Linked DNA regions of Homo sapiens: regions 2, 3, 4, 5 and 6 are each linked to region 1. Evidence: fine-mapped expression QTL. A gene starts in region 1. Each other region holds a variant in brackets. All regions are shown on one strand. Distances are from middle to middle.

Region 1 (4,086 bases):
TGCCTCCAGTATTGAGTTCAGTCACATGCTGTTCAGGTTTGTGGTCCAGGTGCAATACGTCATACCATATAGCCTAGGTGTGTAGTAGGCTATGCCATCTAGGTTTCTGGAAGTACACTCTATGATGCTCACGTGACAAAATCAACTAAGAACACATTTCTCAGAATGTATACCCATTGTTAAGCAATACATGACTGTGTGTCTGTAGGCCATATATATTAATATATATATAGTCATTTGAGATCAGTCTATATACAGTGTTTTGTACCCTGTATTTTCTTTAATAATATATAATGAATACATTTTCCCCATTACTAGGTACTGAAAGACATAATTTTAAATGACTACATAGTACTCGTATGAAAATGCTATTATTTACTTAACCTCTGTGAGACTTTTTGGCTGTTCCGTTTCCCCAGGATTCTAAACATCACTGTGTCTTCTTACATGCATTCTTCCACACTTCTTGGTTGTTGCCTTAGGATATGTTACTTTAGGTAGAATTCCTGGGCTGCGCTGAAGAATAGAAACATTTTAAAGATTCACATTCTTGCTTGTTTTGCTGTTCGCCTCTTTAGGTACCATATTTTTTAGGTGTACAAAATTTATACACCTGATTTTAAGTTCCTGGGTATCAGGGTTCATACTTCTCTTAATTTTGTATTTCCTTGCAGTCCTACTTACGGGTGGCAGGGCTCCTCAAGGGATGGGTGTACCAATGACAACCATGAAAGTATTCTAAGGTATTCCCTAGGACTCCGAGAAAAAACATGCATCTTTCCAAAGGGAAAGAAGGGATTAGATGTTAGCATCCTACTCCATGTCAGATCCAGAGCACCCGGGGGAACTGAAGTTCGTGGATGGAATACAATGACACCTCAGAAAAGAAATACTCCTTTGGTGGAGGCCTTTAAACTTTTGGGGGCTCATTTTGTCTGCCTAACTCGCCCAGCCAGGGCGCAAAATGGCCACTTAGGAGCATGAGTGAGGTGCCAGCGTCCCTACAATCTAAGGAGCAGGGAGTCATCACTGGGGTGGCTGCCGCTCTACCTGTTTGCGACTGTAATAAAACACCTTCTGGAGGCCGAGGGACCCGCTTCATCCTGACTTTTCCCCTCAGTAGCTAGAGAGAAGGCGGCTGAAAAGAGGAGACAGAACTGGTGCTGAGTGGGCCTGGAGCTTCCGAGGCAAGGGAAAGAGGGAGAGGGCTGCAGTTCAAAGTCCAGACGCGCTTTCCTTCCATTCTCTTCCCTTCCTCCCTGCCCTCTGCGCCCCATTTTCCCCTTATCGTGGGTGGGGGCTTCTGATTTGCTGCGGATCCCAGAGATGGTGGGGTTCAGCCTCCGCACTGCTTAGCTAAGTTCCCAGCCCAGCAGTCCCAGCCGGGCTGTTTTCGGTAACCAAAGCACTAGGAATTAACCTCTCTCTCGGCCTCTTCCCTTTCGGTTTCCTTCTTGGGTTGGCTGGAAACTTCACCCAGACACCGAAGCAGCTCTGCCCGGCCTTTTGGCACAGGCCACCGGCCGAGGCCCCACGGGGCGCTCTCCTTCCCCAGGTGCCCCCGACTCCGATCCTGCCCTCAGGGGCTCGCCCGGGACGCGTTTTCCCAGAGGCCGCCGGGGCGGGGTGGGCTGGCTGGCGGGAAGAGGGGGCCGCGGCCCAGGCTCGCCCCGGCGCCGGCCCGGTGGGCACGCGGCCAGCCTCCGGCCCCGACTCGGTCCCTCCCGGCGCCCGCCCCAGCCGAGGCCCCCTCCCGGCCCCGCCGCCCGCCCGCGGGGGCGTGGGAGCGCCGCAGGAGCAGCTGGGACCCGGGCCGGGCCGACAGGCGGCGGCTGCGGCCTAGGGCTCCCGCGCGGCCACCGGCCTCTCCCCTCCCCCTCCCGGAAGCGCGGGGCGGGGTCCCCGGCCGGGCCGTGGGGGCGGGCGCGGGGGCCGGGCCGGGGCGGGACGCGCTCGGCGCTCGCGGGCTCGGCGGGCTGTGCGCGCCCACTCCGGCTCCAGCGGCCAGCGCGCGCGGGCCCAGGCCGCCCGGCTCCAGCCCAGCAGTAGCGGCAGCAGCGGCGGCGGCGGCAGTGCGCGCGAGGCCCTGCGCCCCCAGCAGCTCCTCCCTGGCGCCGTGCATGGAGACGCGGCCCGCCACCCGCCGCTGAGCCCCCGCCGCCCGGCCGGGACCCGCCAGGGCTGGGGTGGCCTCGGGCTCCGGCCGGCCCCGCCGCCCGAGGGCTGCGCGCGGCCCGCGGGCCTCGCCGCCCCGCGCGGATCGTCGCGGCCCGGCCGTCCCGTCCCAGGAAGTGGCCGTCCTGAGCGCCATGGCTCACTCCCCGGTGCAGTCGGGCCTGCCCGGCATGCAGGTAGGCGGGCGCGGGCCGCGGGGCCGGGATGCGCGACCGGGGCGGAAGCAGCAACTTGGCGGTATCCACACGGCGTCCCCCTACGCTCAGCCGGCCGGGGTCGCGCCGGAGCCTGGCTCCCCGCGCGCCCGGCTCGGCCGGGGGTCCGAGTCCGAGTCCCTGGGCGTCCCTGCCGGCTCCGGCGGCCGAGGTCTCCGGCGTGTGCGTGCAGGAGCCGTAGGAACCGCGGCCTGGGTCCGGATGTGGGGGTGCGGGCGCCTAGTCCTCCGCGCTCCCCTCGCCCCAACACTCTTCCGGAGCTGCAGGCCCTGGGTGGCCCTGTCCCCGGGAGAAGTGAGGTGGAGTGATGCCCTTGGAGGCCCCCGCCGGGTCCCGGGGCCCTGCGTGGTGGCCGGGTTGGCGGAGGGCCCCAGGACGCGTCCCCCAGGCTCGTCCCCCACCCCCGGGCAGGCGGGCGGGAGACCTGGGCAGGGCGGGGACGGGGAGCGCGCCTGGACTCGTCCGGGCCCGAGCGGAGTAGGCAGGGTGGAGTGGAGGAAGGTAACCGCGAGTTCCACTTGCAGTGGCTTTGCCCGGAGCCCCCGTGCACCTGCGGACCGGGGGAAAGTGCGAGTTGCAAACCTTCTGGAAGGAGGAATCCCTCGGACAGCCGCGCACCAGGGTCCCGGGCCCGGCCCCGGGACCCTGGACTTTCACTTTGAGACTTGGTTGCATTTACAGGAATTCTTCGCCCAGTAAACCTCTCTTTCGGTACTTGGTGACACCTTGGCCTACCAGTGACTTTTTGGGGAGTGGGAGAGGAGTTGAATTTCAAATTTACATGTATAAGTTAAAGGTTTTTTGTTGTTGTTGTTTTCGTTGTCGTTGCTTTTAGCCCTTTGAAAAACAAAGCTACCGTCCTTGGCTAACTCTTGTAAACTTTGTAGGCGCAGAAATGGTGGCAAAATGCTTAGGATGGAAATCTTAGGATGCAGTTAGGATATGTCATGAAAGTTTGCTCTGCCAGTTTAGCTGAGTGAACGTTAAGTGTTTGAAGAAAACCAAAAGCATCCAAGTAGATTACTGGTTGATTTACAGGTACCAACAGGCTCCTTCCCTGTGTCTTGAGGGCTGAGAAGCACAGAGCCCAGACCTGGGACTGCCTCTGGGGTCTGCTCGCCTCTTCCAGTGAGATCATCCCTCTCCCTTCTTTTTTTGAAACCGTAAAAAGAAAACTGGATTTCACTGTTCAGGTTTGAATTCTGGAAAAATAGGAACTCAAAGTTACCACTTTAATGGCAGCTAGAATTTTAGTCCAAGTGTGTGTGTGTGTATATGTGTGTGTGTGTGTGTGTGTGTATATATAAGCAGTATATATATGTGTGTATATATGTTTAAGCAGTAAATAAATATACATTTAAGCAGCAACAGTTAAGTTATTATCTTAAGAGTGACTGGGAAGATGCTTGAAGAATATTCTTTTGTCGACTCTCATTTAAGGAGCGTTGAATTTAGCATGCATTCAAAACCTAAACTTCTGCTGACTGCTGGGTAACAATCAGATGTGGTTTCTTGGTATTTTCTAAAGCCGCTTTGGTATGAATTTAGAGGTGTGTAGGTCAGAGTGAACTGGGTGAAAAAAGTAATTTCTTACTAGTCGAGCAAGAAAGGACTCTTGTAATGATTTAAAAAAAAAGTTTTATCAATATTTCCTTTAGGTTGATATTTATACCGTGTTCATCAGGTTGGAATCTAG
Region 2 (4,086 bases), 110 kb after region 1:
TTGGTGGTGAAGCGCATCCAGTTGCTCTTTCAGCAGACAGGAAAAAGGGGATCTCCTGGCTCCTTTCCAGTTTCTCTGAGATAATTCCAAATTGACATTTCTATTATATGGTTGGATGTGGCCAAACGTTAATACAGAAAGTTAACAAAGCAGCCCAGCATGGTGGCTCACATCTGTAATCCCAGCACTTTGGGAGGCCGAGGCAGGTGCATCACCTGAGGTCAGGAGTTCAAGACCAGCCTGGCTAACATGGTGAAATCCCGTTTCTACTAAAAATACAAAAAATTAGCCTGGTGTGGTGGTGCAGGCCTGTAATCCCAGCTACCCAGGAGGCTGAGGCAGGAGAATCGTTTGAACTGGGGAGGCGAGGTTGTAGTGAGCCGAAATCGTGCCACTGCACTCCAGCCTGGGCAACAAGAGCAAAACTGTCTCAAAAAAAAAAAAAAAAAAAAGTTAAACAACACAGAACATATATTTTGTCAGCATTTGTCATAAAGTATTTTATAAACTAGGAGATAAGCTTTTTTTTGAGACAGAGTCTTGCTCTGTCGCCCAGGCTGGAGTGCAGTGGCGCGATCTCGGCTCCCTGCAAGCTCCGCCTCCTGGGTTCACGCCATTCTCCTGCCTCAGCCTCCTGAGTAGCTGGGACTACAGGCGCCCACCACCACGCCCGGCTAAATTTTTTTGTATTTTTAGTAAAGACGGGGTTTCACCATGTTAGCCAGGGTGGTCTCGATCTCCTGACCTCGTGATCTGCCCGCCTCGGCCTCCGAAAGTGCTGGGATTACAGGCGTGAGCCACTGCGCCCGACCAGATCATTTAAGCTCTCTTAAATGATCCCTGTGAAGCTCTGTGCAGAGTTTTCTGTGAAAATGTATTTATTAGGGACATCCTTGGAAAGACAGTGCCCTGCCCACCATAGCACCCAGAGCCCAGGCGTAGGTCCTGAGCGACTCGTCTTTGGGTGAGTTGCAGTGAGAAGCGCTGTGGAGTAGAGAGTCCAGCCATCAGGTGTCAGTGTGGCGGTTGACATTTTGAGGCAGAAGTCTGTCCTTTGGGGTAGGACCAAGAACTTCATCTCATACTTTAATTGTTGGGTGTGTTTTTCCAGAGACCCACTGCTAAGGAGTTATTGAAGCACAAGTTTATACTACGCAATGCAAAGAAAACTTCCTACTTGACCGAGCTCATCGACAGGTACAAGAGATGGAAGGCCGAGCAGAGCCATGACGACTCGAGCTCCGAGGATTCCGACGCGTAAGTCGGCCCCTGAGTGACCCAAGCATGTGTGTGGGAGGGATCCGCTGGTCTTTGTCACTGTTTGGTGTGGGTTTCGTTTTCTGTTGAGTTTTTTTTTTTTTTTAGACAATCCAGGTTGGTGGCAATTGTTGTGTTAGACACAGCCTGGGCCTGTTTGGGAGTTGTTTAGCCTCTTGACGTTGCTGGTGGAGTTTCTGCGAGTGAACTCTTGTGGTAGAGCTGTGCATGGGGAACTGGACCTGGCTGTTTCATTCTGTTTTGTTTCGTTCTGTTCTGTTCTGTTTTCCATTAAACTTCCTGTTTGTAAAACCCTGATCAGGTGAAACTGCTTTACATGGATGTCTGAAAGGCCAGAAATGCATGTGTTTGTGATTCTGTATTGTGTCTGGTAGAAGCTTCTGTACCAGGAGTGGCTTACTGAGAATTGCTGTCAAGTTTGGCATCTAGGAATTCCCTTGGCTTAAGAGGCGGAGTGGGGCTGGAGCCATTTGTGTGGGGAGGGCTGGGGGAGGTGGTCGGGCAGACTTGTGTCTGGAAGTCCGAGCGTGGGACTCGTCTGTTCTCGTGCATGCCTTGGCAGAAGTTAAAGTTGGCCCACAGTGCAGGTCCATGTGCCAGGCCAGTTGAATGAGGATTTCCGGGGATGAGACCCTAAGTGGTTTTTCAGGGTCTCTAGGTGATT[C/G]CAGTTTAAAGCCAAGGTTGAGACCACTGCCCCCGGAAGTTCTTGAGGTACTGCCATTGGGAGATTGCTGGGGTAGCAACAGGGATGACAAGAGAAAGAGACTGGAGAGAGGTTTGGAGAGCCAGGACGCGGCGGTGGATTTGGGTGAAGGAGGGAAGCCAATGTTCCAGGCTGGGGCAGCGTGGCACCAGGTGTTGTGATGTGTGGTGCGGGAAGCCGAGTGTGGGGTGAACCGTGTGTGAGTCTGAGTTGTCCAGGAGAGACGTCCAGTGTGAAGTGGCACCGAGGTGTGGAGTTCAGGTGAGAAAGCTGGGCAGGTGAAGCGGGCTTAGGGGCCACTGCTCTGTGGAGGTCACTTGAGCCGAGAGAAAAAAGGGTGTCAGTTGGGGCATGTGGGGGAGTGAGGCTGGCCCCTAGGTGTGAGGGTGAGGCTCCGCCTGTGAGTGAGAGGGGAGAGGTATGGCCGAGGGGCGGGAGGAGGTGCAGGCTTAATGGGGCCACAGGCATCAGGGGATGATCAGCAGGGCCTGGGGCTCATTGCCTCTGAGGCCCATACAGGACAGGGAGTGATCAGCACACCATCATCTCATGATGGGGGAGGGAGCGCTCGGAGGGACACGGGTGGGCTTTGGAGCGAGTGGAGGGTACCAAATAGAGGCAGTGAGTGTGAATCCCAGAACCAGGGCTGAGAGATGGCCAAGGTGAGGCCAAAGTGTTGGAATGACAGGCATGAGCCACCACACCCAACACAGGGACATCTGCTTCCCTGGTGAGAGGAGGAGCCCAGCAGAGAGAAGCTGATGTCCCAGAGATGGGCTCCCAGGGAGGTGGGGGAGGTGTTCTCCGGGAGGAGGAGGAGGGTGGGCATGCACACACTGGCACGCCAGGGAGTTGTGGAACCACCTCCCGATGGTCTCTTCTCTGTGAGGGAGGAGGCGGGGGGGTCTTTGGGAAATCCCAGAGGGACTGGACAAGGGTGTGATGGGTGGGGACTTGGGGCTGGTGGGTGTGGGTTTAGAGGTCCCCAGGCGGCCTCCCCCTGAACGTCCCAGCGCCCCCAGAGCAGGTGTGCGAGCACTGATGGGATTTCCTGCATTTCTGTGTTAAGGGAAACAGATGGCCAAGCCTCGGGGGGCAGTGATTCTGGGGACTGGATCTTCACAATCCGAGAAAAAGATCCCAAGAATCTCGAGAATGGAGCTCTTCAGCCATCGGACTTGGACAGAAATAAGGTACGTCTGCTCACTCCAGAATGGCCACGCTGACCTCAGTCTGCAGTGTTTTGGAGGCACTTGTGTGTGAAGCTTGCTGTGGGTGCGGCTGGGGTCCTTTGTGGCAGCTGTCCTGGAATTTTGTTGCTAGGGGATGGGCAGATGAAGAGCTTTAGTTCTGTCTGATGATCCAGGTGTTCACACCAGGGAGTCTGGCCTCTGGTCTGTTTTGTGCCACTCTATTCTGCTCTCTGCAGCCCTGCTGTTGAGTTAGGATGTCCCGATGTGGCAATGTCATGGGGTTTGGGGGTGACCCGTGAAATGACTTCATAGCTCTGAGGGACTGTTGTGCATGTTGCGGTTACTTACATACATATCATAATTTTGTGACTGAGTTTTAAGGACCTTATAAGTAAATGCATTGCTTTTGATATTTATGTAAAACAATTTTGATTAATTGGTTTTATGCCTGTTAAATTTATGAAAGGCCATATATTTAGGGTCTTGTAAAGCATAGTGGTGTAGTTTCTTTCAGGCAGGGTGGGCCAGTGGCTGTCCCCTGTTGATCCTACAAGTCCCGCTTTGATAAGTGAACAGGTGTTAAATGTCCAAATAGAGGTTGCAAAAGTAGAAACTCGGTCTCTGTCCTAGACAGCCATTGGAATGGCCAATCTTGACCTGATTTCTATTTCCAGGGTTTCATTAGTAAAGTACTTTTCTCTCTCTCTCTCTCTCTCTCTTTTTTTTTTTTGAGACGGGGTCTCTGTTGCCCAGGCTGGAGTGCAGTGGTGCCATCAGAGCTCACTGTAGCCTCAAACTCCTGGGCTCAAGTGATCCTCCCACCTCAGCCTCCTGAGTAACTGGGATTGCAGGCATGTGACATCACGCCCAGTTTATTTAAAACTTTTTTTTTTTTTAATAGAAACATGGTCT
Region 3 (4,086 bases), 120 kb after region 1:
ATATAGGAATAAAGGAAAATAGAATTAAAAAGTCACCCATCTTTTGCCTGAACACAAACTTTTTGATTTCTCAAACTTAGCATCACATACCTCATTCTAGAGGCATTTATTTCCCATTAGAAAGAGCTTTATAATAAAACAAATAGAACAAAACCAGAAACGGGTAGGATTGTTACTGTCTTGTTGGGCATTTTGCTCTCTGCTTTTGTAGTATTACTTTTAAAACCAATACTTTCCACACTGTCCAGAATTGCCTGAAATTGTTATGAACTGTTTGTTTATATACGTGACTTGATTTCCCCAGGGCAGCTCCAGGGCACAGAGTGTGTGGCTTGTATGTGTTGAACTGATCCACGTTTCCCATTCCCAGGCCCCTATCTCTCTGTTCCTCTTCTTTTAGTTGTTAAGGCAAGTTGATCTGTACCAGTGCTGGCCAGTAGAAGTACAGCGTGGGCCACACACAGAATTTTATGTTTTCTGCTGGATGTGGTGGCTCATGCCTGTAATCCCAATGCTTTGGGAGGCCCAGGCAGGAGGATCGCTTGAGGCCAAGAGTTTGAGACCAGCCTGGGCAAAATAGCAAGACCCTGTCTCTACCAAAAAAAAAAAATTTAGCTAGGCATGGTGGCTTGTACCTGTGGCCCTAGCTACTTGGGAGGCTGAGGCTGCAGAATTGTTCGAGCTGAGGAGTTCGCGGCTATGGCTGTGATCACGTTTGCACTCCAGGCTGGGCAACAGAGTGAGAACCTGTCTCTAAAAACCAAACAAAAAGAGAATTTTACATTTTCTAGTAGCCATATTTTTAAAAAGCAAAAAGAAGTGAAATTAGTTTCAACAATACATTTTTTAACCTGCCAGATCCAAAGTATTATTTCAACATTAATAACAACAATCATCAATAAGGTATTTTACATTTTTGGAGGGACCGTCTTTGGAGTTGGTGTGTGTTTTACACTTAGCACATCTCCATTCAGACGCAGCACATTTTACGTGCTCACTGGGCATCGTGGCTGGGGTTGACCCTATTTACCCTCGGGCGGGTCTGTAGCTACCTGATGTCTGTGTTGTGTTTAAAACTTTACTTTGCAGTGATGCATGGGGGAAGCCAAGTTGGTGCTCTCTTTCCTTTGTCTGTGATGAGGAGTGCCCTCTTTCCTCCTCTGTCCTCAGATGAGCTGCCTCTTGAGGTGCTTATCATCTCTCTGCAGGCTTGGCTGTGGTACCCACTTCTTCCTTCCCTGCTCCTGAAGCTCCCACTGAGCGTTCACCCCGATGGCTGCCAAAACCACGGTGGCCATGGCTTAGACTTCCTGCCAGTTTTGCTCCAAACATGTTGTTTCAGTGGATGGCTGTAGGAAAAATGAGAGCCGCCTCTCCTCTGAAGCATTTTCAGAGCCTTTCTGTCTCAGCTGGAATTAATGTTTGGATTCTTTTGTGTGACATCAACTCATCCCGTGATTTAGTCATTTGTATTTCTTGATAGTTGAGTCTTAGGCTCCGTGGCTAATGTGTGCTTTTGGGAGGACCTTATGTAACCATTTGTTCTCTGGGAGAGATGCCAAGTATTTCAAATGCCTGAAAAGAGGAGCTCTAGATTGGAACGTTTGAGATAAGCCTGGTCAAAGACATCCTCAGCCATCTCTCCTGGACCTGTGATTTGGAGTCTGTTGTAAAATGGTTGAGGGAATTGTGGTCATGAGGGGACCCCGTTCTCACCCTTTGTTGTCTTCTGAAGACAATCTTGTAGAATTTTTGGAAGACACAGAAATTACCCATGATCCCACCACTGTAGCCCAAATCTCATCAGCATCTTTGGGTGCATTGCCTTCTGTTGTCATACCAGGTCATAAACTTACTGAATTCTCTTATCTACCTTATAGTGCAAAGAAGATTTTTTAGAATTTCTATAGTACTTAATTTAGGATACAGAAGTTGTTCATGTAAATATACTTATATAGTGCACATATACAGGCTGAATATCCCAAATCCCCAATCTGAAACTTTTGAGCGCCAGCATGGGGCTCAAAGGAACTGCTCTCTGGGGCATGTCAGATTTCGGATTTGGGGCTGCACACTGGTAAGTATAATGCGGATATTCCCAGATCCAAAGCCAGAAGCATTTCAGATAAGGGATGCCCAATCTGTAATTTTGTATGTACTTTTAAACTTGTACATATTTTTAATATTGCTTTAATATATATATGTAAATACAGATAATTACCATTTTTAGTCTGTTATTTCAGTTTGTATAATTTACTTAACTGATTCTGTACTGTTGGGCATCAGAGTTGTTTCCAAATTAGTGTAATTACGAAAATCCCGAGAGACATCTTTGTGCAGACACGTTGTTCCTGCTTTGGACCATATTTCGGAAGCAGTT[C/G]TAGGAAATAGATTCTTGGACTGCATCACTATTTTTATGGCCAAAATGGGTTTCCTGCCCTCACATCGGGAATGCATATGCATCCCTGGAATCTTACTGTGTCATCATGTATGGATCAATGTTCACTTTTTGACAATTGATCGTAAGTAAAAGGGATATGATTTCCCGTTTTATTCACATCTCTCCAGGGAGGCTGAACCCATTCTTGGTTTTTGGTGACATGCTCTGGAGTTTTTGTGTAAGAATCATGATCTTCTCAGTCTTTATATGCATTCTTTTAAAATTAGACTTACACATTGATATTTGCTCCACTTATTTTTGTATGACTTGGAATTTCTTATGAAAACTAAGATTTTGGTTACTATATGAATTTTTGCACAGGGATGAGAAATGACATGTGTTGACTTCTCTCTCTCTCTTTTTCCCTAGATACTCTCTAAGTGGTGGAGGAACTTCATCCCACTGAAATTCCTTTGGCATTTGGGGTTTTGTTTTTCCTTTTTTCCTTCTTCATCCTCCTCCTTTTTTAAAAGTCAACGAGAGCCTTCGCTGACTCCACCGAAGAGGTGCGCCACTGGGAGCCACCCCAGCGCCAGGCGCCCGTCCAGGGACACACACAGTCTTCACTGTGCTGCAGCCAGATGAAGTCTCTCAGATGGGTGGGGAGGGTCAGCTCCTTCCAGCGATCATTTTATTTTATTTTATTACTTTTGTTTTTAATTTTAACCATAGTGCACATATTCCAGGAAAGTGTCTTTAAAAACAAAAACAAACCCTGAAATGTATATTTGGGATTATGATAAGGCAACTAAAGACATGAAACCTCAGGTATCCTGCTTTAAGTTGATAACTCCCTCTGGGAGCTGGAGAATCGCTCTGGTGGATGGGTGTACAGATTTGTATATAATGTCATTTTTACGGAAACCCTTTCGGCGTGCATAAGGAATCACTGTGTACAAACTGGCCAAGTGCTTCTGTAGATAACGTCAGTGGAGTAAATATTCGACAGGCCATAACTTGAGTCTATTGCCTTGCCTTTATTACATGTACATTTTGAATTCTGTGACCAGTGATTTGGGTTTTATTTTGTATTTGCAGGGTTTGTCATTAATAATTAATGCCCCTCTCTTACAGAACACTCCTATTTGTACCTCAACAAATGCAAATTTTCCCCGTTTGCCCTACGCCCCTTTTGGTACACCTAGAGGTTGATTTCCTTTTTCATCGATGGTACTATTTCTTAGTGTTTTAAATTGGAACATATCTTGCCTCATGAAGCTTTAAATTATAATTTTCAGTTTCTCCCCATGAAGCGCTCTCGTCTGACATTTGTTTGGAATCGTGCCACTGCTGGTCTGCGCCAGATGTACCGTCCTTTCCAATACGATTTTCTGTTGCACCTTGTAGTGGATTCTGCATATCATCTTTCCCACCTAAAAATGTCTGAATGCTTACACAAATAAATTTTATAACACGCTTATTTTGCATACTCCTTGAAATGTGACTCTTCAGAGGACAGGGCACCTGCTGTGTATGTGTGGCCGTGCGTGTGTACTCGTGGCTGTGTGTGTGTGATGAGACACTTTGGAAGACTCCAGGGAGAAGTCCCCAGGCCTGGAGCTGCCGAGTGCCCAGGTCAGCGCCCTGGACTGCTTGCGCACTTGCTCACCGAGATGATGCAGTTGGAGGTTGCTGATCTGTGCGAT
Region 4 (4,086 bases), 28 kb after region 1:
TGAACTTAATCTTCAACTTAATTCAGAAGTTGATTAAGGAACTTAATTCAGAAATTGATTCAGAAGGTTTTCTTTTTGCTTTTATTGTTAAAGCATTGAATTGAAAACACTGGAAGCAGTAAGCTGTATAAATGATTTCATTTTATTTTGCATACTTAGAATTGGGCATCTGGAACTAAACAAGAGAGTTTATGCAAAATTACATGCAAATGAGTATTTTTTTACCTTTGAGCCCAGAGCTTTAGGCTTCTACCCTGCTGGGAAAAGGATGCTGTGTCCCTGAGCTTTCATGGGACCACCAGTATAAGTATTAGAAAGGACAACTGGACTTGAGTGATAAATACTGATGGTTTGTCTTTAGAGAGAGAAGACAAAACTACAAGAAAGAGGCCATTCCTTTTTGTTGTTGTTGTTTTTGGAGAGAGGGTCTCGCTTCCTCACCCAGGCTGGAGTGCAGTGGTGTGATCATGGCTCACTGTAGCCTCTACCTCCCAGGCGCAGGCGATCCTCCTGCCTCACCTTCGAAGTAGCAGGGACTACAGGTGTGCACCACCATGCCCAACTATTTTTTGTAGGGACAGGTTCCCCCTATGTTGCTCAGGCTGGTCTCAAACTCCTGGGCTCACGCGATCTTCCCCCCTTGACCTCCCAAAGTGCTGGGATTATGGGCATGAGCCACTGTGCTTGGCCTGTTCCTATGTAAAATGAAAAAGAAGAAACAAGAAAGCTTTTACTGCTTCTAGAGAATTCCCTCAGTTGTAAATGACTAACAGTGTTAATGACGTTTCATGAACTAGGATGAAAATCTTTGTGGAGTATTGAATTGAGTCATCAAAGGGAAGCCTGCAGTGTTACAACCCTAGCCACTATAAATAAAGTGTATTAATGAGCTAGTAGTATGCTGCAGACGACCCACCTGTGGAAGTGAGATTCTTGTGGAAAAGTCAAGATCATTGAAGAGATGTGAGACCACCTAACTGTGAGGTTACACCAGGCATAGTCAGGAGGCAAGGAAATAGGTAGCTACTGTGGTCTGAATGCTTATGGCTCTCCACAGTCATGTTGTGAATCTTAGTGCAATTGTGTTTCGAGGTGGGGCCTTTAGGAGGTGATTAGGTGATTAGCTGATGAGGGTTCTGCCTTCATGAATGGAATTAGTGCCTGTCTCAGGCTGTTCTTCTGTTGCTATAAAGCAATTTATAAAGGAAAGAGGTTTAGTTGGCTTATGGTTCTGCAGGCTGTACAGGAAGCATGGTACAGGCTTCTCTTTGGCTGCTGGGGAGGCCTCAGGGAGCTTTGACTCATGGCCGAAGGTGAAGTGGGAACAGGCAGTCACATGGCGAGAGTGGGAGCAGTGGAGAGAGATGGAAGGTGCCACACACTTTTAAACAACCAGATCTTGCTGGAACTCACTATTATGAGGACAGCACCAAGCCGCGAGGGATCCACCCCCATGATCCAAACACCTCCCAGCAGGCCCCACCTCCAACACTGGGGATTGCATTTCATCATGCAGTTTGAAGGGGACCTCCAACCATATCAGTGCCCTCACAAAAGAGGTCCGAGGGAGCTTCTTTGTCCCTTCTGCTATGTGAGGACAGAGCTAGGAGGTGCCATCCATGAGGAATGGCACTCAGTACACACCGAATCTGCCAGTGCCTTGACCTTGGACTTCCCAACCTCCAGAACTGTAAGCAATGAATCGATGTTGTTTATAAAAGTTGCACAGTCTGAGCTGACTAAGACAGAAGTATTTAGGCTAATGGAGGAAGTTGCACAAGCATTGTTGGTGGTTAGCTGCATATGTTTCAGATGGTCAGAAGAAAAAAATTCTCTTCACTGAAATTGTGTTTCACAGCATGTGTTATCTACATGGTCTCAGGATAGTGTCTCCATTGGGGCTTGTATTAGCAACAGCCTAATTGCAGGAGGCCTCATGACCATTGTCCTACCCCGGGGCACTGATCGGGGTCTTCTCTATTTGTTATTACTAAAGGGCATACCTTGGGAGAGCCACATGTGTATTGAAGGTCATATGGTAGATCTAGTCATTTACTCTATTTTTTTTTTTTTTTTTTTTTTTTT[G/TG]AGACAGAGTCTCACTCTGTCGCCTGGGCTGGAGTGCAGTGGTATGATCTTGGGTCACTGCAACCTCCACCTCTCAAGTTCAAGTGATTCTCCTGCCTCAGCCTCCCGAGTAGCTGGGATTACAGGTGCCTGCCACCATGCCTGGCTAATTTTTGTAATTTTAGTAGAGACAAAGTTTCGCCATGTTGGCCAGGGTGGTCTCGAACTCCTGACCTCAGGTAATCCACCCACCTCAGCCTCCCACAGTGCTGGGATTACAGGTGTGAGCCACCGTGCCCAGCCATTTGTTCTATTTTCATGTAGAAAGATGTGACACGAGGGAGAATAATAGTGAAGTGTACGCATCATCAGCTGTGTGATTTGAGGGTAAACCCTTGAGATGAGACAGTTTCTTGTCACTTGATGATTTATTTTCCTATCTCAGCCTTTAGTTGGAATTTACTGGGTGTGCCTGTCACTTGTGATTCAGCTGCTTCTTTATGTAGCATTGGCAGTTGTGGCTTAGAAAGGACAACACAGCTGAGGCTGCAGGTCACACCATAATGGGAACAGGGGAGCACTTACTATGTCCAGTTTTAAAAAAAACTTTGTTTTTGCCCCAGGAAAATAAAAAATTGTCTTATTTTAGCCCCAGGAGAATAAGAAAACATCTTATTTTTAGCCCCAGGAACTATAATATGTATGCATTTTTCTGTATTTTTTACAGGTGAGTAAACTAAGGCCTAGAGAGGCAAATAACTTGTAAGAGGTGGAGGTGGATTTGAAGCCACATGCACCTGGCCGTAGACTCCACGTTCTTCTCTTCATGTGGTGTCAGCTCCTCCAGTAGATTTGCTGCTGGAGCGGGAAGTTAGAGTCTCTCTGAGTTCTTAAGGGAGAGAGGGGAGGGCTTGGTGGCCCAGCTGCATAAATAGCCTCATCTACCATGAGGGTTTAGCAGTAGTTTGCTCTGTGTGGATAAGAACTACAGTGTGGGATCAGTTTACTGGAGATGAGAAGGTGAATGAGGCTGTGATATTGAAGTATAGGAAAGGTGCTTGCACATCATGTATTTTCTCAGTTTGCTCCTTTGGTCACAAAGAGTTGGTAATAAGGCGAAGTTTACTAAATTGATGGCTGAATACAACTGGGAGCCTTGCAGAGAAAACCATTTCACAGCTATTGATTTTACTCTTAATCTTGCCTCCCCAGCCCATGGCGTGTCATTACAGGAATCCTGGACAAGAGGTGTCTCAGTACAAATACTGGAAAACCAGCTGACTGCAAACAACCTATTGACTTTTTATCATAGTTGGTCATTAATTTTGTTTTAAAGAAATAGGGTCTCATTCTGTCGCTTAGGCTGGAGTGCAGCGATGTGGTAATGGCTAACTATAGCCTCGAACTGGTGGGCTCAAGCAGTCCTCACGCCACAGCCTCCCGAGTAGCTGGGACTATAGGCGTGTGCCACCGTGCCCGGCTCATTGTTTAAATTTTTGGTGGAGATGGGGTCTCATTATGTTTCCCAGACTGGTCTCTAACTCCTGGCCTCAAACGATTCTCCCACCTTGGCCTCCCAAAGTGCTTAGGTTGACAGGTGTGAGCCACTGGGCCTGGCCACAATTTTAATATAAATTTTAACATAAAAGTTACCCCTTAAAACAATTAGATAGCTGGGCGCGGTGGCTCACGCCTGTAATCCCAGCACTTTGGGAGGCCGAGGCGGGTGGATCACGAGGTCAGGAGATCGAGACCATCCTGGCTAACATGGTGAAACCCTGTCTCTACTAAAAATACAAAAAAATTAGCTGAGTGTGGTGGCACATGCCTGTAATCCCAGCTACTCGGGAGGCTGAGGCAGGAGAATTGCTTGAACCTGGGAAGCGGAGGTTGCGGTGAGCCGAGATGGTGCCATTGCACTCCATCCTGGGCAACAAGAGTGAAACTCCATCTCAAAAACAAACAAACAAACAAAAAAAAACAACAATTAGATATGGAAGGAAGGGGGAACACAGATGTTCA
Region 5 (4,086 bases), 56 kb before region 1:
GGGTTTCACTACGTTGGCCAGGCTGGTCTCGAACTCCTGACCTCAAGGGATCCGCCTGCCTCGGCCTCCCAAAGTGCCGGGATTACAGGCATGAGCCACTGTGCCCAGCCAACACAGATGCTTATATATCTCTATCCATAATTGCCAAGAACTGGAAACTATCGAACTGTCCTTCAACAGGTAAATGGACAAACAGCTGTGGTACATCCATATAATGGTGTACTACCCAGTAATCAAAAGGAACACGTAATCAATGCGGCAACACATCAGGCCAATCTCAAGACATTATGCTTGCTAAGTGGGCCAAGCCAGTCTCAAAGGCTCCATATTTATAATTCCATTTATAAGATATTCTGGAGAAAACTAGAGTGAATGAGAACATATCGGTGGTCTCTGGAAGGGTGGAGGGAAAGATAATACCGAGAATTTTTTGGGGAAGATGGAACAGTTCTGTCTGCTGATTGCAGTGGTGGTTACACAGTCTATACGTGTGTTCAAATTCCTAGAATTCCACACCAAACAATTCAATTTTACTGTATGTTAGTTTAAAAAAACGAAGTCACTTTTTGCATAGCACAAAGCATTATAAGCAAAGTCAGAAAACAAATGACAAAGTTAAAAAAAGTATTTATGTGATTTATATCACAAGCAAACTACTACTCTCCGAAATATACAAAAATCTTTAAGTGTCAACAAGGCCAGAACACCATCCCGGAAAGAGCAGAACATGAACAGCTATCAAAAAAAAATACAAACAGCTTTAAAATATGAAAAGACGGTTCCCATTACACATAAACAAAATGCATGTTAAAACTACAGTAAAATACCAATGTTTATAAGATTGGTAAAAATTCCCAACTTTGACAATGCAAACTGTTGGCCAGGCACTCTCATTCAGGGAATGGGTATTAGACAATATATAATATTAGACAAATAATGACAGATATTTGGCACTATCAAGTATTTCCTTTGACAAGGCATACTTATTCTATGTGTGCAAAATGAAGTATCTTCAAGGTTATTCCTTGCAGCATTTTCTATAATAGCCAAAGAATTGAAACTAGTCAAATTCCATCACTAGGGAACTAACTAAATAAATCATGGAATACATCCATTCATTGAACTGTTCTGCAGCTATAATAAAGAATGAGATAACTTTCTATGCCCTGATAAAAGACAGGTTCTTATATATATTATTGTTAAATGAAAAAAGGAAAGTGTAGAAGAGTGTATAGTATGCAAAATTCTGTATAAAAGGTAAGGGGTGGCCAGGCGTGGTAGCTCACACCTGTAATCCCAGCACTTTGGGAGGCCAAGGTGGGCACGTGGTTCACCTGAGGTCAGGAGTTTGAGACCAGCCTGGCCAACATGGTGAAATCTCATCTCTACTAAAATACAAAATTAGCCAGGTGTGGTGGTGTGCACCTGTAATCCCAGCTACTTGGGAGACTGAGGCAGGAGAATGGCCTGAACCCGGGAGGCAGGGGTTGCAGTGACCCTAGATGGTGTCACTGCACTCCAGCCTGGGCAACAGAGCGAGACTCTGTCTTAATTAATAAATAAATAAGTAAATAAATAAATAAATAAAAAAGGTAAGGGGTAACAGAATAGATATTGGTACTTGTACCACATGGAGAAGCTCTGAACAAATAAGAAAATAATGGAAGTGATGATCGATGGGAAACAAAAAGATGGGAGATAGTAGAAATAGTTTCCCTCTATATCTTTCTGTGTGTTTAATTTTTGAGCCATTGATACAAATTACTTGTTCTAAAAATTAAATTAATAATTATATTTTCAAATAAGAAGATCCATTTTCAGTGATAGCTCATTCATCAGCTCTGTGGAATGCAATAGAACAGGCAGAAGGGCTCCGTGGGAGAGCTGAGACAGGAAGCCAGAAGAAACACTTCCCTTGCACAAAAGAAGTGAAAATGCAGAAGGAAGTGGCATTGGAGAAATCTAGTGCAAAAGGAGCAGAAAGGGTATGAGAAACGGCATGAGAGAGTGGAAGACATTCGTTGTTTTGGATGTGGACTTGAATTTAGGTCTGCTTCCTGCTGACTACGGAATTTGGGCAAGTCTTTTAAGTTCTCTGAGCCTGTTTTCTCAACTGCAAAATGGCAATAAGAACAAAACCTACCTCACAAGGTGATTGT[A/C]AGTGTTAAAGAAAACATGGAAACACCTTGCAGCAGAGAACGGGCCTGTGCGCTGACAATGTTGTATTAAGAAACAGAAAAAGGAGGCCGGGCGCAGTGGCTCACGCCTATAATCCCAGCACTTTGGGAGGCCAAGACAGGCGGATCACGAGGTCAGGAGATCAAGATCATCCTGGCTAACATGGTGAAACCCCGTCTCTACTAAAAATACAAAAAAAAAAAAAAAATTAGCCGGGCGTGGTGGCGGGCGCCTGTAGTCCCAGCTACTCGGGAGGCTGAGGCAGGAGAATGGCATGAACCTGGGAGGTACAGCTTGCAGGGAGCCGAGATCACACCACTGCACTCCAGCCTGGGTGACAGAGTGAGACTCCGTCTCAAAAGAAATAGACAAAGGAGGCTGAACGTGGTGGCTCATGCTGTAATCCCAACACTTTGGGTGGCTGAGGCAGGAGCATCACTTGAGGCCAGGAGTTCAAGACCAGCCTGGGCAACATAGCGAAACCTGGTCTCTACAAAACATATTTTAAAAAATTAGCCAGGCATGGTGGCACAAGCCTGTAGTCTTAGCTACTTGGGAGGCTGAGGCAGGAGGATTGAGGCTGCAGTGAGCTTTGATCCCAACACTGCACTGTATTCCAGCCTGGGCAACAAAATGAGATGCTCTCTCTAAGTTTTAAAAAAAAATTGAAAAAGAAGAAATAGACAAATGAAAAAAGCAAAGCCTCTCAGAGCTTCCTACTGCCTCCTTTCCTGCTGGGCTTCTGTACCACTGAGCCCCAAAGCTTGGACTTGCCTGGGAGGATGGAGAGATGGGAAGCTACTGAGAGACAAAGGCAAAATCCCACTGGGCACACAGGAGGAGGAGGACTGGAAATCCAGTCTTAAAGGATTCTCTTCCGAACAAACTCCAGTTTGCTAATTTGGTCATGAACAGGCCACCTTACTGTGGGGCATTTTAGGAAGTTTGAACGTTATTCTGAGGGCTTTGAGGGTTTTGAGTGGAGGTAGGGGTGGGATGCTGATCAAATTTGCATCCTAGAAAGATCACTGTGAATACAGTGTAGAAAGTGGGTTGGAAGAAGACAAGATGGGGGGCAGGGACCTCATTAGGAGGTGGCTGCAGGAATCTGGGGGGGAGTCGGAGGTGGCCCTAACTCAGGTGAAGGGATGGAGGAGAGACTGGGAGGAGCCTCAGGGGGCTTGGTGAATGCCTGATGGAACGCTGAGGCATGGGAGGAAGAAGAGGCAAGGACGACTCCCAAATTTCAGGTGGAGCAGTCCAGTGGGTGTCATGAGCACCATTCACTGAGACAACAACAACAAAATGGCAAGAAGCGGCTGGGTGCGGTGGCTCACGCCTGTAATCCCAGCACTTTGGGAGGCCGAGGAGGGTGGATCACGAGGTCAGGAGATCAAGACCATCCTAGCAATGGCAAAACCCTGTCTCTACTAAAAATACAAAAAATTAGCCAGGCATGGTGGCAGGTGCCTGCCGTCCCAGCTACTAGGGAGGCTGAGGCAGGAGAATCGCTTGAACCCGGGAGGCAGAGGTTGCAGTGAGCTGAGATCGTGCCACTGCACTCCAGCCTGGGCGACAGAGCGAGACTCCATCTCAAAAAAAAAAAAAAAAAAAAAGAAGCCACAATCGTGGGAAAGATGAAGAGTTCAGCCATGGCCACAGAGCGTCTGAGTGGCTGTCAGACTCGGGGGAAAGTGGGTCATGGGTAGTAGGATGTTATGGTCCGGACTCACACAGAGGTCAGTGAGAGACATCTACCTACAAATAGCAGGCATGTGAGCCTAGCAGCGCATAGAGAACCAGAAAGAGAAGCCTGAGACACAGCCCTCAAGAATGTCACTTAGGGCCAGGCATGGTGGCCCACGTCTGTAATCCCAGCACTTTGGGAGGTCAAGGTGGGTGCATCAC
Region 6 (4,086 bases), 21 kb before region 1:
CCTATGGATGGGAATTACATAATATGTGGTCCTTCTGACTGGCTTCCTTCTCTGTGTTGTTTGAGTGTTTTTTATTCTTCTCCTCCTCTCCCCTCAAGTTCTGTCCCTTCAAACCCATCACACATTTCAGATTATTTGATTCCTACTTTGCAGAAGCCACTGTCATCTCTCCTGAATTTGTCCCTAGAAAATCTTGCCTTTGGGTGGGTGTGGTGGCTCACACTTATAACTCCAGCACTATGAGAGGCCGAAGTGGGAAGATCACTTGAGGCCAGGAGTTCAAGACCAGCCTGGGTAACATAGTGAGACCCCATCTCTAAAAAAAATAAAAATCAGCAGGGTGTGGTGGTACATGCCTATAGTTCCAGCTACCTGGGAGGCTGAGGTGGGAGGATCACTTGAGGCCAGGAGTTTGAGACTGCAGTGAGCTATGATTACACCACTGCATCCAGCCTGAGTGACAGGCTGAGATGCTGTTTCTGAGAAGAAAAACAATTGAAAATCTTGCCTTTGCTTGTGGCCCTCTCTGGCAAGAAGACACTGCCCTATGAGGGCACTAATGATGGCCACCCAGTGATGTGGAGGGGTTAATGCCATCCTGGAGATGCTCTTTTGCAGCCTGCTGGCAGTAACTTGGGCTCTGCTGCCTGAAAGCAGCAGTGCCTGAGGATTTCAGTCAACATTCCAGACATACTTTGTGAAGATCTACCAGCAGTCCCCACAACCCCACTGCAAATTACAAGGTATAGAAAGCTTTTGAAGAGAATCCACATTGAATTTTATATTTGGGATGGAATCCTGTAGCTTTATAAAATATTTCTATTCCCAAATATTTCTTTTCCTTTGCATTTGAACTAATGAAATAGACGTTTTTTTAAATTGAGTTTTGGACTTTGAACAGAGTGCCTTTGTTTTCTTGGAACATAGGTTACCTATGACAACAAAACCTTTTTGCACACTGGCTTTTGACCTGGGAATTGAAACAGAAGGCTGAGCCTGTTTTTAACATATTTGGGCACATCAGATGATGTTCTTTTAAAGAAGTGGCCATCATGTCCAGGGCACTGTCTTCCTGATACAAAAATAAAATTAGAAAGAGTTTTATTTTCCATGCATTAAAACATTCAGATTTTAATCCCATCTATCCAAGGGGTTTCTCTAGAGCTTTCAGAGCATAATGTATTGGGTTTTCCAAAGAAGACAACTTCTTTAATAATTAAGGGCTTTTTGTATGCATTTCTTATATGAAATAATGGCACGAACTGAGAAATAGTCCTTTTGCAAAGCAAATGTAACATTTGTACAAAAAAGAACAAAATTAAAAGATTTCTTGATTTAAGGTCCTTTTTAAAAATTAAAGCTGTCAATTTTTTTGTCTCAAAAGAGATTTAGTAAAGATGAAAGACAAAAGACAACAGTATCTTCAATCACTAGCTTATTAAAGGAAGACTAGGTAGAATAGACTTTATTCTAAGAAAAATAGGAGGCCATTGAAGGGCTTTTAGTATGTGAGAAACATGATTTGGTTTGCTGGTGGAGAATCTACTGGAAGGGGCAAGAGTGAAGCAGGGAGACCAGGGGAGAGATAAGAGTGGTTTAGAGAGATGCTCTCAAACATGCAAATGACTTGCAGTTGCATGAAATGTAAATTCTGATTAATAGAATCAGTGTTTGGG[T/A]TGCACCTGAGACACTGCATTTTGTTTGTTTGCTTGTTTGTTTGATTGTTTTGAGATGGAGTCTTACTCTGTTGCCCAGGCTGGAGTGCAGTGGCATGATCTCGGCTCATTACAACCTCCACTTCTCAGGTTCAGTCGACTCTCCTGCCTCAGCCTTCCAAGTAGCTGGGATTACAGGCATGTGTCATCATGCCCGGCTAATTTTTGTATTTTTAGTAGAGACAGGGTTTCACCATGTTGGCCACGCTAGTCTTAAACTCCTGACCTCAAGCGATCCTCCCACCTTGGCCTCCCAAAGTGCTGGGATTACAGGCGTGAGCCACCATGCCCAGCCTGAGCCACCGCATTTCTAACAAGCCCCCAGGTAAATAATGATGTTCCTAATGCTGAACCACACCGAGTAGCAAGGGTTTCGGGTAGGATGATAACAGCACAGAAGGAGGAAATGGATGGATTTGAGAACTATTTAGAAAGCTCTGAAATTTAGGATCCTATATTTAGGATAATAGGACTCCCTGACTGACCAGGAGGAGGGGACCCAAGGATCACCAAGGATGGGTCCCATGTTTTTGAGCAGGAGGGATTGTGTGGTCTGATTAGTCGACGTTGGGAACAAGAGAAGGGAGTTTCTAGGGGGAGCTCCTGAGCTTAGGAAACATCCGAATGAAGTGGGCAGGGAGATGGATTTCTAAGTCTTGAGCTCAGGAGAGAAGGCTAGAGATGTGCACTGGAAATCATTAGGTAAAGCAAATGGTATAGTAGACCCAAGGGAGTAAAGAGGAGCGAGAGGATGAGAGAGCCTGGAACTGGCCCTTTAGGGCTTCTAGTATTTAAAGGATGGGTAAGACTGGACGTGATGGCTCACGCCTGTAATCCCAGCACTTTGGGAAGCTGAAGCAGGAAGATAACTTGAGGTCAAGAGTTTGAGACCAGCCTGGCCAACGTGGTGAAACCCCCGTCTCTACTAAAAATATGAAAAATTAGCTGGGTGTGGTGGTGCACGCCTGTAGACCCAGCTACTTGGGAGGCTGAGGCAGGAGAATTGCTTGAAGCCGGGAGGCAGAGGTTGCTGTGAGCCGAGCTAGTGCTACCACACTCTAGCCTGGGTGACAGGTGAGACTCTGTCTCAAAAAATAAATTAAAATAACATAAAATAAAATAAAATAGCCGGGCGTGGTGGCTTACGCCTGTAATCCCAGCACTTTGCAAGGCCGAGGCGGGCAGATCACAAGGTCAGGACATCGAGACCATCCTGGATAACACATTGAAACCCCGTCTGTACTAAAAATACAAAAATTAGCCAGGCATGGTGGCGGGTGCCTGTAGTCCCAGCTACTTGGGAGGCTGAGGCAGGAGAATGGCGTGAACCCAGGAGGTGGAGCTTGCAGTGAGCCGAGATTGCGCCACTGCACTCCAGCCTGGGCGACAGAGCGAGACTCCATCTCAAAAAATAAAAAAAATAAAAAAATACAATACAATACAATAAAGGATGGGTAATACTTATTAAGCCCACTGGGGATACTAAGAAGGAGAAACCTCAAAGGTCAGAGGCAACCAGAAGAACATTATAATACAAATGTCAATGGAAGAGATTGCTTCCAGAAGCCAGCATAGCCAACTATGTCAGGTGCCATGGTGAAAAGACAGAGGGCTGCAAATTGCCCATGAACTATATCTGCCTAGGTTATGGTGAATTGAATATGGCTACATGGTTTCTGAGGACTGGTGGGGGTGTGCACCAGGTTGGAGGGGTCTGAGAAGGGAGGATAAGGTAAAGGAATGGAACACACTTCCAAGAAGTTTGTCCGTGGAGGGAAAGAGGTACTGCAATGGTAGCTGGAGAGGTATGTGAGGTGGAAGGAAGGTTGTTTTTCTTTTTTCTCTTTTTTGAGATGGAGTCTCGCTCTGTCGCCCAGGCTGGAGTGCAGTGGCGCGATCTCAGCTCACTGCAACCTCCACCTCCTGGGTTCAAGCAATTCTCTTCCTCAGCCTCCCGAGTAGCTGGGATTACAGGCGCCCGCCACCAGGCCCAGCTAATTTTTGTATTTTTAGTAGAGATGGGATTTCGCCATCTTGGCCGGGCTGGTCTTGAACTCCTGACCTTGTGATCCACCCACCTCATCCTCCCAAAGTGTTGGGATTACAGGCTGAGCCACCACACCTGGCCTGTTTTTGTTTCTTTTAAAATGGAAGAGGCATGAGCATGTTTAAATGCTGATTGGAAAGACTGAGTCAAAATGAGAAACTTAAGATACAGAAGTGATAGGGAACCAGAGATAGCATGAGGTCACTGAGAAGGGGGCGGTGGAGGAAGTGGACTCAGATGTGAGAAAGGGCACATCCCCTTTATAACAACAAGAGAGGATTTGGACCAATGTCAATAGGTTTACAGACGTGGTGGTGAGATTCA

Direction of the effects. Alleles are on the strand shown, and positions count from the first base shown. SD is a standard deviation of normalised expression in the study named. Not every link is listed here.
For the expression in skeletal muscle of the gene that starts at base 1,989 in region 1, allele TG in region 4 goes with a lower level than allele G (moderate effect, 0.49 SD a copy in FUSION).

What was found. PIP is the estimated chance that this variant, and not a neighbour inherited with it, causes the effect. A credible set is the group of variants that fine-mapping cannot tell apart.
Region 2: its variant is the best candidate, but not a certain one, in a credible set for the expression of STK24 in whole blood (INTERVAL, PIP 0.70).
Region 3: its variant is the best candidate, but not a certain one, in a credible set for the expression of STK24 in cerebellum (GTEx, PIP 0.61).
Region 4: its variant is the best candidate, but not a certain one, in a credible set for the expression of STK24 in skeletal muscle (FUSION, PIP 0.89).
Region 5: its variant is the best candidate, but not a certain one, in a credible set for the expression of STK24 in whole blood (TOPMed, PIP 0.78).
Region 6: its variant is the best candidate, but not a certain one, in a credible set for the expression of STK24 in whole blood (INTERVAL, PIP 0.63).

What each region holds. Positions count from the first base shown.
Region 1 is chr13:98,575,010-98,579,095 of GRCh38, reverse strand. It overlaps STK24 (serine/threonine kinase 24), which reads left to right and starts at 1,989. Exons shown (of 11, transcript NM_001032296.4): 1 at 1,989-2,351. The coding sequence starts at 2,310. STK24-AS1 (STK24 antisense RNA 1) reads right to left here and starts at 1,841. Exons shown (of 1, transcript NR_046542.1): 1 at 255-1,841. RefSeq lists an enhancer at 1,276-1,465 and silencers at 1,556-1,705, 1,726-2,035, 2,086-2,955.
Region 2 is chr13:98,460,862-98,464,947 of GRCh38, reverse strand. It overlaps STK24 (serine/threonine kinase 24), which reads left to right. Exons shown (of 11, transcript NM_001032296.4): 7 at 1,112-1,257; 8 at 3,051-3,174. Among named protein-coding and RNA genes, the nearest start is that of FARP1-AS1, 27 kb to the right of the region's middle. RefSeq lists an enhancer at 730-1,231. The variant C/G (reference allele first, on the strand shown) is at 1,943.
Region 3 is chr13:98,451,933-98,456,018 of GRCh38, reverse strand. FARP1 (FERM, ARH/RhoGEF and pleckstrin domain protein 1) reads right to left here. Exons shown (of 27, transcript NM_005766.4): 27 at 843-4,086. It overlaps STK24 (serine/threonine kinase 24), which reads left to right. Exons shown (of 11, transcript NM_001032296.4): 11 at 2,810-4,086. The coding sequence ends at 2,846. Among named protein-coding and RNA genes, the nearest start is that of FARP1-AS1, 18 kb to the right of the region's middle. The variant C/G (reference allele first, on the strand shown) is at 2,381.
Region 4 is chr13:98,546,861-98,550,946 of GRCh38, reverse strand. The region is part of intron 1 of STK24 (serine/threonine kinase 24); the gene reads left to right. Among named protein-coding and RNA genes, the nearest start is that of STK24, 28 kb to the left of the region's middle. The variant G/TG (reference allele first, on the strand shown) is at 2,086.
Region 5 is chr13:98,630,987-98,635,072 of GRCh38, reverse strand. No RefSeq gene overlaps it. Among named protein-coding and RNA genes, the nearest start is that of STK24-AS1, 56 kb to the right of the region's middle. The variant A/C (reference allele first, on the strand shown) is at 2,160.
Region 6 is chr13:98,596,466-98,600,551 of GRCh38, reverse strand. No RefSeq gene overlaps it. Among named protein-coding and RNA genes, the nearest start is that of STK24-AS1, 21 kb to the right of the region's middle. RefSeq lists an enhancer at 3,703-3,752. The variant T/A (reference allele first, on the strand shown) is at 1,677.